Regions from separate parts of the Homo sapiens genome. Here region 2 is linked to region 1. Evidence: fine-mapped expression QTL. A gene starts in region 1. The other region holds a variant in brackets. All regions are shown on one strand. Distances are between the middles of the regions. Region 1 holds the start of SCARF2 (scavenger receptor class F member 2). Region 2 has its middle 93 kb from the start of MED15.

Region 1 (8,320 bases):
CAAGCAGGCTTGGATTCAGTATCTGAATCTAGAACCGGAAGGTGGTGGGGGGCGGAGTTTGGGAGGAAGCCTGAAGACCCTAGCGGGATGGGATAGACTGGCCCTACACCATGCATTTCAGGATAGTACATGCCTGGCATGCTCCTGCCCAGGCTTCCGAGGATGCCCCAGCCATTCCCCAGCTAGACAGAATACCACCCCTTGTACAGAGCACCTAGGCCTCGAGGCCCCTCCTCCTGAACAAGGCTTGGTTCTCCTTCAGGCCAAAGATGGGACCTGGCGAACAGGACCATAAAATCTCAAACTTTGGGGAATTGGTCCAGTGTATTTTCCACAATAAAACTGGAAACCAGAGACAGGAATACAAAGGCCTGGCTTTTCCTGGCCCCTGCCCCCACTGTCTCCACCCACCCAGCCCTGACCCAGGGGGCACCAAGGTGCCCATCTGCAGGGAGACCCAGGTCTGCTGGCCATCACCCACCCACTTGTGTCTGCTTCTGAACCATGTTCACTGGATGGAGAGCCTCTGCAGGTGTCCCTCCTGTGGGGAGCTTTGCCAGGTGGCCTGCTGGAATTGCCCCGGAAGCACTAACCCCCTTCTGCCCTGGACATAAGGCTCTGTGGCTAGGACCCTCGTTTTAGGGCCACACTCAGCTGGGTTTGATGTCTGGGTTTGCCACTTGCTGTGTGACCTCAGGCATGCAGCTTAAGCTCTTTGAGCTTCAGGCTCCTTAGCTATATAGTAGGGCTCTACTGTAGAAAGATTAAGAGAGCCAAGATGTTTTTTTGCCGGGCGTGCTGGCATGTACCTATAATCCCAGCTACTCAGGAAGCTGAGGCAAGAGGATTGCTTGAGCCCAAGGAGTTTGAGGCTGCAGTGAGCTGTGATGGCACCACTGCTCTCCAGCCTGGGCAACAGAGTGAAACCCTGTCTCAAAAAGAGAGATAGAGATAGGAGAGAGAGAGAGACAGAGAAAGACGACAGAGAGAAAGAGAGCGCGCGCCAAGACCTATGAAGTGGTTTGGCACATACTAAGCACAAAGGATCCTGAGCACAGGCTGCAGTGCCTCTGAGTGCACTCGGTCATCTCTGGTTTAGCGGGCACCCAGGCCTAACCCCAGCAGAGCTAATGCCCACCAGCAGGACAGAGTCCATTTGGGTTCACTGAGAACAAGATGCTTTCCTTCTTGGAAGGGCTGGCAGAAAAGGCCGGGTGGTGGTGGCAAGCCCACTCTCTGAAGATCTTACAAAGACGGGTGGGGAAAGATGGCCTGCTGCAGGGCTGCTCCCACGCTTGCCCTGTAAGTCGGCAAGACCCTCAGAAGCCAGGCCATAGGCTGGGCCCAGGCCCCTCAGCAAGCAAGACATGCCGTAGGCTTCTCCCTCGTAGAGCATTAGTTCTGTGATTCAAACCCACTGTGAGTTCTTACATCTTCAAGTTGGCTCATGGGGTCCATACCTGTCCATGTTCTCCCCCAAATCCAGGCAGAAAAGCTTCTCTGCCTGCCACACCCTTCAGACCCCACACCAGCCCGACCCTCCTGCTGCCCCGCCTGGACACCTCTCCTCTGGTTTCTGTCCCCATCCTCAGATCTCTCTTGTGTCCACACTAGCTCCCTCGGGAAGCTCACTGAACACTGACAACACCTTGGACCCTCCAGCAGGGCTCTCCCCATCAATGCTAGACTTGCAAATCCAACTGCCCAATAGATGATGTCACCAGAAGGAGACCTCATGGGCCTCATGCCCAACCAGCCCAAACCTGAACTCTTGACCTCCTTGCACCCTGAGTCTTCCCTGCCTCAGATAACCCTGCCTGTCCTTTCAGGCTGGGAAGCTGAGACCTGGAGAAGCATCTCTGACTCTTCTTTCTTGTCTACACCAGATCCATTGAGAAAAAAGACGCTGAGCTCTAGCTTCTAAACGATATCTAAAATGGGATCACTTCCTCCTTCCCTATCCCAGCCTTGTGAGAGCCACCCTCCATCTCCCTGGCTTTTTGTAACTGGCCCCAGCTTCCACCCCCTGCCCCCCAGGGTGCGAAGTGTTTGCCACCTGGCAGCCAATCCTGGTCAGATCCCACCCTTTCTCTGTACAAAGCCCCCAGGGGGTCCCATGGCCCTCAGAAGAAAAGCCCAAGTCTTCTGAGCAGTGGCAGCCCACGGTGGCCTGCCCACCCTCACTCTCTGGCAGCTCCTCCGCCAGCCCCTCCTGGACTCTGCCCAGCCTCCTGGATCCTTCCTGTACTTCCACAGGCCCTCTGCCTTGGGAACCTTGCCCCAGACACCCACAGGGCCTCCGTGCTCTTCTGCAGGCCTGTGCTCACTCACCACCTTCTCAGCCGTTCTCCTCAGAACACCCTAAAGGAAACAGCACTCCCCAACCCAACACCTCCCAGCTCTTGCTAGATGTCTAGACACACTTGCTTTTCTGGACTGTGTCTCCTCTGCCACAGGGTCAGGGTCTCCACTGCAGCTTCCCTACACCAATACAGGCCTGGCACAGTGTAGGTGCATAGGATTTTACTGGCTTTGCACTCTCCTCTCCCCATCCTCCTGCCTCCCAGGAAAGGGAAGGGCTGATGGAAGCCTTGCAAGATGTGGGAGGACAACAAAGACATGACCCAGACCCCAGGTGGGCAGTGCCCAGAGTGGCTGTCCTTCCCATCGACCCTTGCCACTCATGACCACAGCGATCTCCACTTAGCCCCATGAGGGGGTTGTGATCACTATCCCATTTTACAGAGGTGGAGACAGGCCCAGAGAGGTCAAATGACTTGCCCAGGTCCACACAGCTGGGTAGGGTGGCACCAGGATGGGAACCCAAACCCAGGCTCGGTTCCTGGAGCAGGCGCCTCCTGGGAGGTCTGCAGACCAGGGGAGCGGGAGCAAAGGGCTCTCAGGCTCCGGACAGCTAGAGCCTGGCACCGGACCCCCATTCCTGGTCCCGGGCCTGTCTGGGAAAGAGGGCTGGAGTGAGTAGACAGAGACCACGGCGATCGCGCCCTCCCCCTCTCCAGGCACCGCCCCGCCCGCCGCCGCCGCTGCATTCCTGGGGCCGGGGAGGCCCGGGAGTCCGCGGCGGCGGCATCGATGCGAAGCAGATGGCGGGCCAGGCCGGCCCCCGCCCCGGAGGCGGGGCTCGCAGCGGGGAGGGGTCTGCGCGCCTCCGGACCAGAGTTCGGAAACCCCGCGCTGCCCCCTCGCAGCCCCTTGTCTCTGGCGCCGAGCCCCTGGACTCGGCTTGCCCCGGGTCCGTGGCTCAGGCGCCCCGACGCGACCCAGCTCGGAGCCCGGCGGCCGCCTCTGCGGCTGCCAGCCCGTGCGGCGTCTCCAATCCGCGCCAAGGCGCCCCCACACGCCCGCTCCTCACCCCTGCGTGGAGATGCCCTTGACCTTGTGGCCTTTGGCCAGCCCACCGGCTCCCCCGACCCCAGCTCCTAACTCCTGGCGTCCGGGGCTCACCTCTCTGCCCTCCGTGCAAACTCCCGGACTCGCCCCCCCACCGGCCGGGCCTGTCGCCTGCCTGTCCCACACTGGCTTCCCCAGCCGGCGCCCCACATTTGCGCGGCCCCTTCTTGCACCCAGAATCCCCACCTGGTTGTCGCCAGGGTTCCCACATCCTCCGGTCCCCTGTGCCTGTCATAGTCCTTCCGCCTCCCGCTTCTGGTCCACTTCGAGCGCCGGCTCCTCGACGCTCGCCTGGGTCACCACCCTCCCACCCGCGCCCGCTCTAAGACGCGAATCTGTCTTTCCAAGTCTGGCTTGCTCCAGGACCTCCCCGGCTAGCACCGCTCCTCCTCCCCTGACCTTCCTCCTCACTCCCACTCCCGGCTCCAGTCGGACTAGTGCGGGGCTTTAGCACATGCAGTTCCTTTGGCTTGAATGCCCTTCCCCAGCTTTTCCCCGTGGACTTCACAACTCGGTCAAGGGTCCCTTTTTCCAGGTCTTTCCTGATATCCCGGACAACGCGTGTCATCCCCTGGGTGCCCACGGCACTCCATCCTCCCCTCAGGTGACTTCTCGTCCAGGGTTCCCTGGGATGCACTGTCGTGGCCCATGGCCGAGGCTGGGCCTGGAACGGAGCCGCGCTGGCTAGGGAGCCGAAGGGGCCCACACTTGGCGTAGGAAGGTTCCGGTAGCCCCCTCCCAATGCCCGGCGCCGCCACACCACTGCCCAGAGCGTCCCTCTCGCCCCCTCCCCCAGCCAGGCCGGCTCCTACCCGGGAGCACGGCACACGTTGCGGCCGCGAGGGTTCAGTTCCTGAGGCGCCACGGTGTCCGGCAGCATCCAGAGCAGCAGCAGCAGCAGCAGCGACGGCAGCAGCGGTGACGGCGGCCCCCCGGCTCCCCGGCGCCGCGCCGGCCCGGCCCCCCGGGGCCCTGCGCCCTCCATGAGGCGCGGGGCAGGCGCGGGGCGGGCACGGGCGCGGGTGCGGCCGCAGCGAGAGCGGCCGGAAGCGGAGTGCGAGGCCGGGCGGGGGGCGGCAGGAGGGGCGCCGAGCCGGGCAGGAAATTCCACATCGGCTCCCTGATCCCGGGCCAGCCGCGGCCGGCCAGGCGGCAGCGCCCGCCCCGCGCTCCAGACCCCACCCTCCGGCCTAGCCACCGCCCCTCCGCGCAGCCCCCGCCCCCATTTGGCCGCTCGCAAACTTGGGGGCGAACTTGGAGGAGGCCCGCCGAGCGCTGGTGGAGGGAGGGTCCGCCCGAGGAATCCCCGGTTCCCGCGCCTTTCCCTCCGCTCCCTAGACATCTACCGAAGCAGCCGCCCCTGCGCGCCCACTGCGTAGGCCAGGCCCGGGACGGGAAGGCGGATCGGGGACACGGACGCGACTCCGCAAGCCCACCCCCGCTCCCAGCGCCTCGGAACCGGCCAAGGGAGTGGGGCCCGCAGACAGCCCAGGTCGAGGCCGAAAGCCAACTCCACAGCACCCCACCGCGAAGTCCTTGTAGTGCTGGGGTGTGCGGTCAGCTCCCCCTGCGCACTCCTGCGCACTCAGAGCTCGCAAGGGGCGGACCGAGCAGGATGCTTGAGGCCTGTGGTAGACTCGGTCCGGACCAGAGGCCTGGGGGAAGGGGTCTCCGTAGGGACGGATGGGAGAGATACAGAGGAAGTAGAATGGCCAGGCTGTGGACTGCGGTAGGAAGTAGAGGTAAAGACAGAAGGAGACCCCCGGGATGGAAACCCTGCAGTCCTAGTTGAGGAGTGAAGGGGGCTGGGGGAGCCTGGGCGGTGGATTCTGCTGGCTGTCGGATTTCCAGGAGAGGCTGGGGCTAGAGAGTGGGAACTCCTGCATCAGGTAAGGTGGGTAACAGCACAGAGCAGAAGGAAGGTGTGGGAAGGGAGCAAGACAGAGGGACAGGCCCTAGGGAGCCAGCGGGGAAGCTGGACTTGGACTGGGAGGCAGCAGGGTGCGGGTCCCCGGGGGGCAACTGGGGCAGACCGACTCTGGAAGTTGGGCAGGGAGCACAAATGTCCCGTGTGTAGCCAGGTCCTAGTGAGGATGTTTGTCTTTTGGGGACTTGAGAGCTGGCAGAAGGCCTAAGCAGGGAGCGGGCACCTCCGTTCTTTGGGGAGCAGGCCACATGCGGCCCACAGGCTCACTGAGGGAGGGCAGGCAGACTCTGTCCAGGTGTGGCCAGATAGCCCCGAAGGGTGGGGCTGGAGGAGGGGGCTTGGAGGAGGAGCCACTGAAAGGCCCAAGGCCATGGGCATCACCAGGCTGGCACAGGCAGAGAGTGGGATGGGGAGGAGCAGGCCCCTCACTCAGCCATGCTGGTGCAGGAGGGAGGTGGGGTGGGCTGAAAGAGAAGTGGAACTAGTGTGGACACGAATGCAACTACCTGGGGACAAATAAACAGGCCAACCACTTCTGGGCAGCTCAGCCTGGGCACAGCCCTGACCTCAGCAATGCCCTCCCAGTGCTGGGGCCCCTCCCACGGAGGATCCGGATTGCGGCTCCCAATAGAGGCCAGCAGAGGTCCCAGTGGCTGCAAGGTCTGTCCCAGCCCAGCTCCTGGCTTTAGAGGCACTGACCCCCTGGGCTGGAGGGGACACTCACCTCAGCTGGATGGAGGTCATGAATAGGCATATCAAATTCCATCACCTTTCTCCTTCCCCCAGACCTGTCCAGGGAGGGCACCACCTGGATGGTGCCCCCCAATCCCCCAGGACCTCCTAAATGTCTTAGATCTCTGCCCACCCCTGTCTGCCACCCAGAGTAGTCTTTTTAATCTCACATGTGGCTATCCACCACTGCTCTCAGGATGAGGACCATCCCCAGTCTCACCTCACGACCCGGTACATACATCCCTTGCAGTAGATGGCAACTTTGGGTGTCATGGGCAGAGCCCTCATTTCTCCCAACCACCACTGCACCCCTAGGGGAAGACTGAGAAGTATGGGAGGAATGAAGGATCATCCACATGGCACTAGGATGTAGAAGGAACCCACAGACAATTGACCACCACGCAGGCAAACTGCTGGAGCCCGGAGCCCTGGCCTGCTGGTTTTGGCCAGGATGGCTGCCAGAAGGAAGTGGACTTTGAAGGCTGAGGAGGGTTTTGCATGAAAGCAGGGACCAAGAGCCTAGCCACACTGGAGAGCACAAGTTGGGCTGCCTCAGCTCCGGGGTATCAGGTGTAACCCTTAGAAACCCAGCTTAGCCCCAAGGCTGACAGTGGCAGGGCCAGGCTGCGCCCAACTCCAAGGCACTCTCCACCCCTCCCCAGGCTGTGCAGGACCTCAGTGAGCCCTTCCTGCCCCTGCAGACCAGAGGCCTCCTGCAAACCTGTGGCTGTGGCTGGTGGCTCAGGTGAGATGTTGCCAGCCAGCATGTTGTCAGGACGCACTGGAGAGTGGTGGGGCATGTCTGGTGCTCCTCCTTTCCAGAAACCTCTGAGGTCTGCAGGAGCTATTGCCCTGGCCTGCCAGGTGGTAGCAGAGACACAGGAAGTGCTGGGTCTGAGACCCACAGAGTGGGGTTCCTACTCTGAACCCATGCTCTTGCGCCTCACCCTCAGGAGAAAGGGAGATGACACTGGAGTGTATAGCCATCCCGCCCCACTAGGGCTCAACACTGGGTCTGCCACCCCAAGGCAATGTCATGTTTCCTCAGGGGTACTCAGGGCCCAGGACAGTGAGGAAGGTCTTCAGGTTACACACACACCCACATACCACAGCCCTGGGGGCACAGGCCAACTCTGAGGGCTTTGTCTCTACCCTCAAGAATCCTTGGGGTATCCATTTAGGAGAGCCCAGAGTGACTGATAGTCCCCCGTCCCCATCCCCTCTCCTCCCATCAAGGAGCACACACTGCCCCCTTCTCTTCCGGGACAGGATGCCAGCAGGAACACATGGCTGTCCCCATGCTCTGCCCAGTCAACTGGGAAAGGATGGGGCCTTGGCAAGTTACAGCCCTGTCTGCGGGATGGCTCTGGGCACAAGGCTCATAGTAGGAGTCTGCAGGTGCAGACCCTATGAGGGCATCAGGATGGAAGAAAGCTTCGTGTGGTGCAGCCCTGCAGTGAGGCTGGTGTGGGCTCACAGCCCATCCATGCAGGGTGCAGGCTAAGCCTGGCAGTCTCAAGAGGGCAAGAAAAGCATGGGGACAGGTGAACAGGGGAGGGTCCCAGCTGCTGTGCCAGTGTGGTCCTTGAGACTGGGTGCCTAAGGGTTACCTGGCAAACCTGTAGCACATGCAGCTCCCCTCCCCAGCACACTCAGCTTCAGGAGGTTGGGAGGAGCCGGGCACAGGCCAGAGGGGCCCCCCCCACCGACCCCCTGATGCTGCCCCGCTCCCAGGTGCTGAAGCTCTGGTTCCCTGACCCTCAGGCTGAGAGACTCCTAACGAGCTGGGCTGAAACTCTGCGTGCTGCCCTGGTTGGGAGACAAGTTCCACACCAGAGAAGACACTCAAGTGGCTGCACAACCACCTGTCACCAGACCAGGGCGAGTTCCAGCTTTCCCACTGAGTGCCCTGTTAGCTTGTGGAGTTTACTGTGCTTCCCTCTCAGGCAGGGTCTTCCCAGTGCCACTTGGCTTCTGGCCTGGGCTTCCACAGCCTCTCCCAGATGGCAGCTCTGACCCCAGAAGCCACGCTTCCTGGGGACGCAGCTTGGGTGCACTGTGGAAAGGAACTGAGGCTGTGGCTACAGAAAAACAGTTAACACCTTCTGTAAGATGCTTTATTTCATTGACCAACAACATGGGGTCTGAAAACCCAGCGGGAGGGGTCTTTTTATCACAGAGCCAGTCCCAGGCGAGCTGATGCATCTCTGCTCCTCTGCCCCTCAGGAGCTCTCATCCTCCAACCCCAGC
Region 2 (8,320 bases), 160 kb after region 1:
CCAGAAGTATAGGCATGGCTGCTTGCACCACCAATTTAAATGCTAATTACTTCTGAAAACACCCTCACACACATGCCCAGAAATAATGTGTAACCAGATATGTGTGCATCCAGTGGCCCAGACAAGTTGACATATAGAATTAACCATCACAAGTCCACCCCTTGTCAACCTGGTACCTACACACATCTCCTTAAACCATACTTAACCTCCAAATAAACACAATAACAAAGTCAGTGTTAGCAGTGGAAGGTGTCTGAGTTAGTGGCAGCGAATCCGTATGGGTCTGCAGCAACCTCAATTCTTGCCTCCTCAGAAAAAAGAATTCAACTGGCCGGGCATGGTGGCTCACGCCTGTAATCCCAGCACTTTGGGAGGCCAAGGCGGGCAGACCACGAGGTCAGGAGATCGAGACCATCCTGGCTAACACGGTGAAACCTCGTCTTTACTAAAAATACAAAAATTAGCCGGGCATGGTGGTGGGTGCCTGTTGTCCCAGCTACATGAGAGACTGAGGCAGGAGAATGGCAGGAACCCAGGAGGCGGAGCTTGCAGTGAGCCGAGATCGCGCCACTGCACTCCAGCCTGGGCGACAGAGCAAGACTCCGTCTCAAAAAAAAAAAGAATTCAACTGAGGGGCATAAGGCAGAAAAAGAGACCGAGGCAAGTTTTGGAGGAGGAGTGAAAGTTTATTTAAAAAAGCTTTACAACAGGAAAGAAAGTATTCTTGGAAGAGACCTAAACAGGCACATAAAGGTCAAGTGCGGTGTTTAACCTTGATTCTAGGACTTTATAGACTGACCCCTTTCCCAAGATTCTTCCCCTAGGGTGGGCTGCCTACATGCACAGTGTCCTCCTTACCCTTGGGAGATGAGCACACGCAGTGTGTTTAGGAAACTGTACGCATGCCCATCTGAAGATTTCTTCCGTCCCAGAAGGTCATACTCTGCCATTGTCTCTTAATGCACATGGCCGGGGAAATTGCTTCTCCCTGGTGCCTGCATTCAATTAACACTTTAATGAAACAGGTGTGACCCATCAGGAACTGGCCTCTCCCTGATGCCAGCTGCCAATTTATCACTTTCATTTTTAATTTATTTTTTAGAAGGAGTCTCACTCTGTCACCCAGACTGGAGAGCAGTGGCATGATCTCGGCTCACTGTAACCTCTGCCTCCCAGGTTCAAGTGATTCTCCTGCCTCAGCCTCCCGAGTGGCTGGGATTAGAGGCATGCACCAACATGCCTGGCTAATTTTTGTATTTTTAGTAGAGATGGGCTTTCACCATGTTGGCCAGGCTGGTCTCGAACCCCTGATGTCAAGTGACCCACCCACCTTGACCTCACAAAGTGCTAGGATTACAGGCATGAGACACCATGCCCAGCCCTGGCTTTTTTTTTTTTTTTTTTTTTTTTTGAGACGGAGTCTCGCTCTGTGGCCCAGGCTGTAGTGCAGTGGCATGATCTCGCCTCGCTGCAAGCTCCGCCTCCTGGGTTCACGCCATTCTCCTGCCTCAGCCTCCAGAGCAGCTGGGACCACAGGCGCCCACCACCACGCCCAGCTAATTTTTTGTATTTTTAGTAGAGACGGGATTTCACTGTGTTAGCCAGGATGGTCTCGATCTGACCTCATGATCCGCCCGCCTTGGCCTCCCAAAGTGCTGGGATTACAGGCGTGAGCCACTGTGCCCAGCCGCTAATTTTTTATTTTTTATTGTTTGTAGAGAGGGGGTCTCCCTATGTTGCCTAGGCTGTTTTGTTTTTTTTTTTAAACAGAGACAGGGTCTTGCTATGTTGCCCAGGCTGGTCTTGAACTCCTGGGCTCAAGCAGTCCTCCCATCTTGGTTTTCCAAAGTGCTAGGATTACAGGCATGAACCACCAGGCCCGGTCTCCACTGTGAATCTTTTTTTTTTTTTTTTGAGACTGAGTTTCACTCTTGTTGCCCAGGCTGGAGTGCAGTGGCACCATCTCGGCTCACCGCAACCTCCGCCTCCTGGGTTCAAGCAATTCTGCTGCCTCAGCCTCCTGAGTAGCTCAGATTACAGGCATGCACCACTACGCCCAGCTAATTTTTTGTATTTTTAATAGATACAGGTTTTCACCATGCTACCCAGGATAGTCTTGATCTCCTGACCTCATGATCCACCTGCCTCAGCCTCCCAAAGTGCTGGGATTACAGATGTGAGCCACCGCACCCGGCCGCTAATGTTTTATTTTTTATTGTTTGTAGAGACAGGGTCTCCCCATGTTGCCTAGGCTGTTTTTTGTTTTGTTTTGTTTTGTTTAACAGAGACAGGATCTTGCTATGTTGCCAAGGCTGGTCTTGAACTCCTGGGTTCAAGCAGTCCTCCCATCTTGGTCTCCCACCCAAAATGCTAGGATAGGCGTGAACCGCCAGGCCCGGTCTCCATTGTGAATCTTTTTTTTTTCTTTTTTTTTTTTTGAGACTGTGTTTTGCTCTTGTTGCCCAGGCGGGAGTACAGTGGTGCGATCTCGGCTCACCGCAACCTCCGTCCGCCTCCTGGGTTCAAGCGATTCTCCTGCCTCAGCCTTCCTGAGTAGCTGGGATTACAGGCATGCGCCACCATGCCTGGCTAATTTTGTATTTTTAGTAGAGATGGGGTTTCCCCATGTTGGTCAAGCTGATCACGAACTCCCGACCTCAGATGATCCACCCGCCTCGGCCTCCCAAAGTGCTGGGATTACAGGCATGAGCTACCGCGCCCGGTTTACCATTTTGAATCTTAAGAGGACAAAGTCTGGTTCTCTAGAAGGCCCGAGTAGCTTTTCCCCTGAGCATCTTGAGAAAAAAGTGCTCTGAGCACTCCTTGGGAAGTCCGAGACAGCACATGCAGCCAGGTGCTCCCTGGCTGCTCTCCCAGAGGTCAGCACAGCTGGAGGCAGCTGGAGGGAGGAGGCTGCAGAGGCGCTGAAGCCAGGAAGACCCAACAGTGGAGAGAGAAGTTGCCTGGTGACTGACCCTCGGCTTGACCCTGTGCTCCCCTGGGCTGAGCTGGGTGTCAAAAGGCCTCCACCCTCCAAAGTGCCAGCCTCCTGCTGTGGCTGGAAAGCATTTGCTCCTCCTCCTCTTCTCACTTCTTTGCATTCTTCTGATCTCTTAAGGGCGTACAAAGATTCACATGGATATTAAAGTCAATGGTGATTTTCATAGCTGGAATACTCGTTGGGAGAAAGTAGGAATTCTTTTTTTTTTTTTTTTCTCCCAAGCTCAAGCGATCCTCCCACCTCAGCCTTCTGAGTAGCTGGGACCACAGGTGTGAGCCTCCATGATGGCCTGGCTAATTTTTTATATTTTTAGTAGAGATGGGGTTTCACCATGTTGCTCAGGCTGGTCTCAAACTCCTGAGCTCAGGCGATCCACCTGCCTCGGCTTCCCAAAGTGCTGGGATTACAGGCGTGAGCCACTGTGCCTGGCCAAAAGTAGAAATTCTTGATTGGGAAATAATTTTATATATTTCGGCCCCTTCTCACTTGGGAAAATTCTGCTAAGAATTCTGGTTTTGAGAGTCAAGGGAAGCTAGCTTAATTTTTAAAGTGAAGGCTACATAAGAGTCCTCTCTCCAGTGTGGTGGCTCACACCTATAAACCCAGCGCTTCGGGCAAATCACTTGAGCCCAGGAGTTCAAGACCAGCCTGGCAATGTAGTGAGACCCCTATCTCTACAAAAAAATTTAAAAATTAGCAGGGTGTGGTGGTGCGTGCCTGTAGTCCTGGCTACTTGGGTGGGATGCTGATGTGGGAGGATTGCTTGAGCCCAGGATTTGGAGGTTGCAGCGAGCCATGATGGTGCATTGCACTCCAGCCTGGGCAACATGGCAAGACCTCGTCTCAAAAAAATACAAAGAGTCCTCTCTATGTTGGAAATGTCAGAGTTATTGGCCATTTAGGGGATCTAACTTGCTCTTTGATGTCCAAGAGGAAAGGTATAGAGTTCTCCTGATTACACAGGGCCTCTGCTTGTGGGTCGCCTGCATGAGGCGATCAGAATCTGAGTCACCTGGGATCATGTGGGTGCTGGTACATCCTAGAGATAGGATGTGTTGGTCATGGAAGAGAGTGGGCCACAAATGGGTTCCAGGGGAATAGCGTTGCCTGGTGCAAGGAGGGGGATGTGGAGGTGCAGGGAGCAGGGGTGGTGTCTGGAGAGCCTGAAGCTGTGCTGCCAGAGGCTCCAGGCCATGAGGTCTGAGAAGCATCTAGATTTGGCCTGTTCACAGCAGGGAAGTGTGGTCCAGTGGCAAAAAGTTGAGGGCATCCTAGGAGTTGAGGAGGTGGTGGCGGTTAGAGTAAACCACTCTGGAGGCGTCCGGGGTGGAGAGACGAGAATGTGCAAGAACTCCTGCCTCTAGCCTGGCCTCCTCAGGACCCCGGCCACCAGCCTCCCTCCTAGAAGTCCCCAGAGCTTCCTCCTCCTTGTGCCCCAGAACTGGTTCCTGGGTTGCTCCAACCCCAGACCTTCCCTGGAAGTCCCCCCCAGTGCCTCCTGGCTGGGAACCCCCAACTGCATTTTGCTTCTGCTCTCGTGCCAGTAGTCCCCTTTTCTCTCCAGTGTCCAGGCCCCAACCACCAAGACCCTGCCTCCTCACTTGGCTTTGCTGTTCTTAGTTCTCTACTCAGTAGGTTGTGTCTGCCTCCATTCCTGGCCAGACGCTGCCCTGGGGCTGAGTGCACAGTCCCCAGCCACTCCCGAGATCCTCAGAGCTTCTGGAAGCCACAGACATGGTGGCATATGTTTCAGGTCGTCAGCTTGTTTTTTTTTGGAGACAGAGTCTCGCTCTGTCGCCCAGGCTGGAGTGCGGTGACGTGATCATTCACTGCAGCCTTGACCTTCTGAGCCCGGGTGATCCTCCCACCTCAGCCTGTCAAGTAGCTGAGACCACATGTGTGAGCCACCACACCTAGCTTTTTGAATCTTTTTTTTTTTTTTTTTTGAGACGGAGTCTCACTCTGTCACCCAGGC[T/C]GGAGTGCAGTGGCACAATCTTGGCTTACTGCAACCTCCAGCTCCCAGGTTCAAGTGATTCTCCTGCCTCTCCCGAGTAGCTGGGATTACAGGTAGGTGGCACCACACCTAGCTAATTTTTATGTCTTTAGTAGAGACAAAGTTTCACCATGTTGGCCAGGCTGATCTTGAACTCCTGACCTCAGGTGATCTGCCTGTCTTGACCTCCCAAAGTGCTGGGATTACAGGCGTGGGCCACGCGCCCAGCCAACTTTTTGAATCTTTTGTAGGGATGGGGTCTTGCTGTGTTGCCCAGGCTGGGCTTAAACTCCTGGACTCAAGTGATCCTCCCTGCCTTGGTTTCTCAAACTTCTGGGATTACAGGCCAATCTACTCAACGTTGATATTGAGTAGAAGGCAAAATTCACATGGCTCCGGCCCAGCCCCTTTCTGTCTCAGGCACTTCAGTGTTAATATGCGCCTTGGTTTTGCTGCTGCCGAGTCTACTGTGCCCCTGGGCAAGGAAAGCAAAGGAAACCAGAGGGCCAGGCCCGTGGACACTGGGGTGAGGGGCCAACAGGGTGCCCAGCAGTTGTTTCCACAGCCCCCACGTGGTCAGGGACCCTGTATGGGTGAACCGCCTGGATACTGAGCCTAGGCGGCGGAAAACTCAAAAGCAAGGGCAGGTTTATTCAGATCCCTGGTGGAGTTACAAGCTTGGTTTGGTTTTTGGTCACAGGCCCTAAAATACCTGTATTCTGAGTTTACATAAAAATACAAAGCACTGGCCGGGCGCGCTGGCTCACACCTGTAAGCCCAGCACTTTGGGAGGCTGAGGTGGGTGGCTAACATGAGGTCAGGAATTTGAAACCAGCCTGACTAACATGGTGAAACCCCATCTCTACTAAAAATACAAAAATTAGCTGGGCATGGTGGCGCATGCCTGTAATCCCAGCTATTCGGGAGGCTGAGGCAGGAGAATCACTTGAACCTGGGAGGCGGAGGTTGCAGTGAGCCATGATCGCACCGCCGCACTGCAGCCTGGGCTACAGAGCAAGACTCTGTCTCAAAAAAAAAAAAAAAAAAATCACCACCGAGACGCTGTTCTCCCTGGTGTGTCATCTGTGGGGTGAATGAAGGTGTGAGATACCCCGTGGTGGTTTCTGTCAGTGAATCTGTAGTTGTCATATATTTTGAATACTTCAATATCATCGAACAGTTGCTGTGTCTTTAAGCACTAGATTTTATTGAAGCTACCTTCTTCCCTTTTTAGTCCCATTTCCCCTAGATGCATCCACGACTGCAGGAACCCCCCTGCCCCCACCAGGAGCCCAAAGATAACCATGTTCCCACCTGGAGTGGCCTCCCACCTCCAATGCCATCAGGGCTGGTGCAGCTTCCCCACCTGGTCAGCAACATCATGGCCAAGGAGTAGAGGGCGTAGCCCAGGGTGAACAGCAGTGCACAGGTGAGGGGCCTGATGCAGAACAGAGAGGCCATGAAGAAAGCCAGCAGTAGCCAGGGCAGTGTCAGGTAGCTGCCTAGGAAGTGCAGGTTGAGCCTGTGGCCGCTGGCCAGCGTGGGCTCTGTGAGGTGGTAGCAACAGAAGCTGGCAAGGAAGTCATCTCAGGAACACAGAGCCGCCATCTGGTCTGCAAACTGAAGCGCAGGCAGTGGCACGGGGGCATGGGGTGGTGGCACCACAGGCCTCAGGACAGCTGCACCCCACCCCCACAGGCCACCCTGAGACTGCACCCCAGGCAGGAGCACCCAGAACCCTCTCTGAAGAGGCCAGGCCAGCCCTCCTGCCCACTCACTCTGTGTTTGATGGCAGATGACAGCCGGAAGGATGCTCAGACCAAGCTGGTAATCTCATAACTCCAGAGGGGCTGCAGCTCCGGGTCCCCCTGGTACTCAATTTCAAACCTTTGCAGCCTGTTGATGATCTAGAAACCCAGGCTATAGGGTTGGGCCAGAAAACATGGCCCTGGCCAGGTGCAGTGGCTCATGCCTGTAATCCCAGCACTCCGGGAGGCCGAGGCGGGCGGATCACAAGGTCGGGAGTTAGAGACCAGCCTGATCGATATGATGAAACCCCGTCTCTATTAAAAATACAAAAATTGGCCAGGTGCAGTGGCTCACACCTGTAATCCCAGCACTCTGGGAGGCTGAGGCAGGTGGATCACGAGGTCGGGAGATCAGGACCATCCTGGCTAACACTGCGAAACCCCGTCTCTACTAAAAAAAATACAAAAAAAAATTAGCTGGGCTTGGTGGCGGGCACCTGTAGTTCCAGCTACTCAGGAGGCTGAGGCAGGAGAATAGCGTGAACCCAGGAGGTGGAGCTTGCAGTGAGCCGAGATTGCGCCACTGCACTCCAGCCTGGGCTACAGAGCAAGACTCCGTCTCAAAAAAAAAAAAAAGTTAGCCAGGCATGGTGGCATGTGCCTGTAATCCCAGCTATTCAGGAGGCTGAGGTGGGAGAATCGCTTGAACCCAGGAGGTGGAAGTTTCAGTGAGCCAAGATCATGCCACTGCACTCCAGCCTGGGCAAGAGAGGGAAACCTTGTTTCAAAAAAAAGAAAGAAGAGAAAAGGAAACATGGCCCCTGCACACAACTCAGAAGAGCCAAGCCATCTCTGCTCACAGGGGAGGAGGGAGCTGGGGACACGTCAGGGCCCAACCCATGCACCTCTGGGACTTGGGCCTCTCACCTGGTACTGGCCCAGGGGCGTGGGGATGAGTCTGTCCTCACCCGCGATGCAGTCCGGAGCTGCTTCTTTCCATTCTCATCCTGGATGGTGTCCAAGGCAAGTGTGAGAGACTCTGCGTGAGCTGCACTTCACTGAGCTACCAGAGAGAGAGAAGCTCCTCTGCCCTCAGTGTCAAGGCAAAGGAACACCAGTCTTCACCCCACCAGCCTCTAACAGTGGCAACGAGAGCACCCGGACATGACACTCGGGGTGTGGGCCTGCCTCCCACAACACCGGGTTCATCTGCATGGGGCCTGGGACGGATGCATGCTGACCATGGGCAAAGGGGGAGTGGATCCTTCGGGGAAGGGGACCCTAACGGCCGTGGAACAGGCCCCATTGCTCATACTCGGAATATCTGGCGCAGGTACGCCAGGGCCTCCTCCAGGCACTCGTCCATCTTCTGGACGCTGTCCTGCCCCATCTCGCCCAGGTCATGGCTGAATAGGAGCCGTTGGTGTCTGTGGGGCCAAAGCCCAGCCACAACAGGAAGGAGTGGCCAGCTGGAGTCTCCACACACTGGTCCGAGATGGACCTGGCCGTGTGCTTGGCCTGCGTGATGAGCTGAGTAAGGTGCAGGACCTGCAAGGGAGGCGAGGGCAGGTCACCGGC

The links. PIP is the estimated chance that this variant, and not a neighbour inherited with it, causes the effect.
Region 2: its variant is fine-mapped to the expression of SCARF2 in monocytes (TOPMed, PIP above 0.99).

What each region holds. Positions count from the first base shown.
Region 1 is chr22:20,433,359-20,441,678 of GRCh38, forward strand. SCARF2 (scavenger receptor class F member 2) reads right to left here and starts at 4,467. Exons shown (of 11, transcript NM_182895.5): 1 at 4,224-4,467. The coding sequence starts at 4,396. It overlaps LOC107985588 (a long non-coding RNA gene), which reads left to right and starts at 4,638. Exons shown (of 2, transcript XR_001755623.2): 1 at 4,638-5,153. KLHL22 (kelch like family member 22) reads right to left here. Exons shown (of 7, transcript NM_032775.4): 7 at 8,161-8,320.
Region 2 is chr22:20,596,259-20,604,578 of GRCh38, forward strand. It overlaps the pseudogene CCDC74BP1. Among named protein-coding and RNA genes, the nearest start is that of MED15, 93 kb to the left of the region's middle. RefSeq lists a silencer at 4,229-4,419. The variant T/C (reference allele first, on the strand shown) is at 4,977.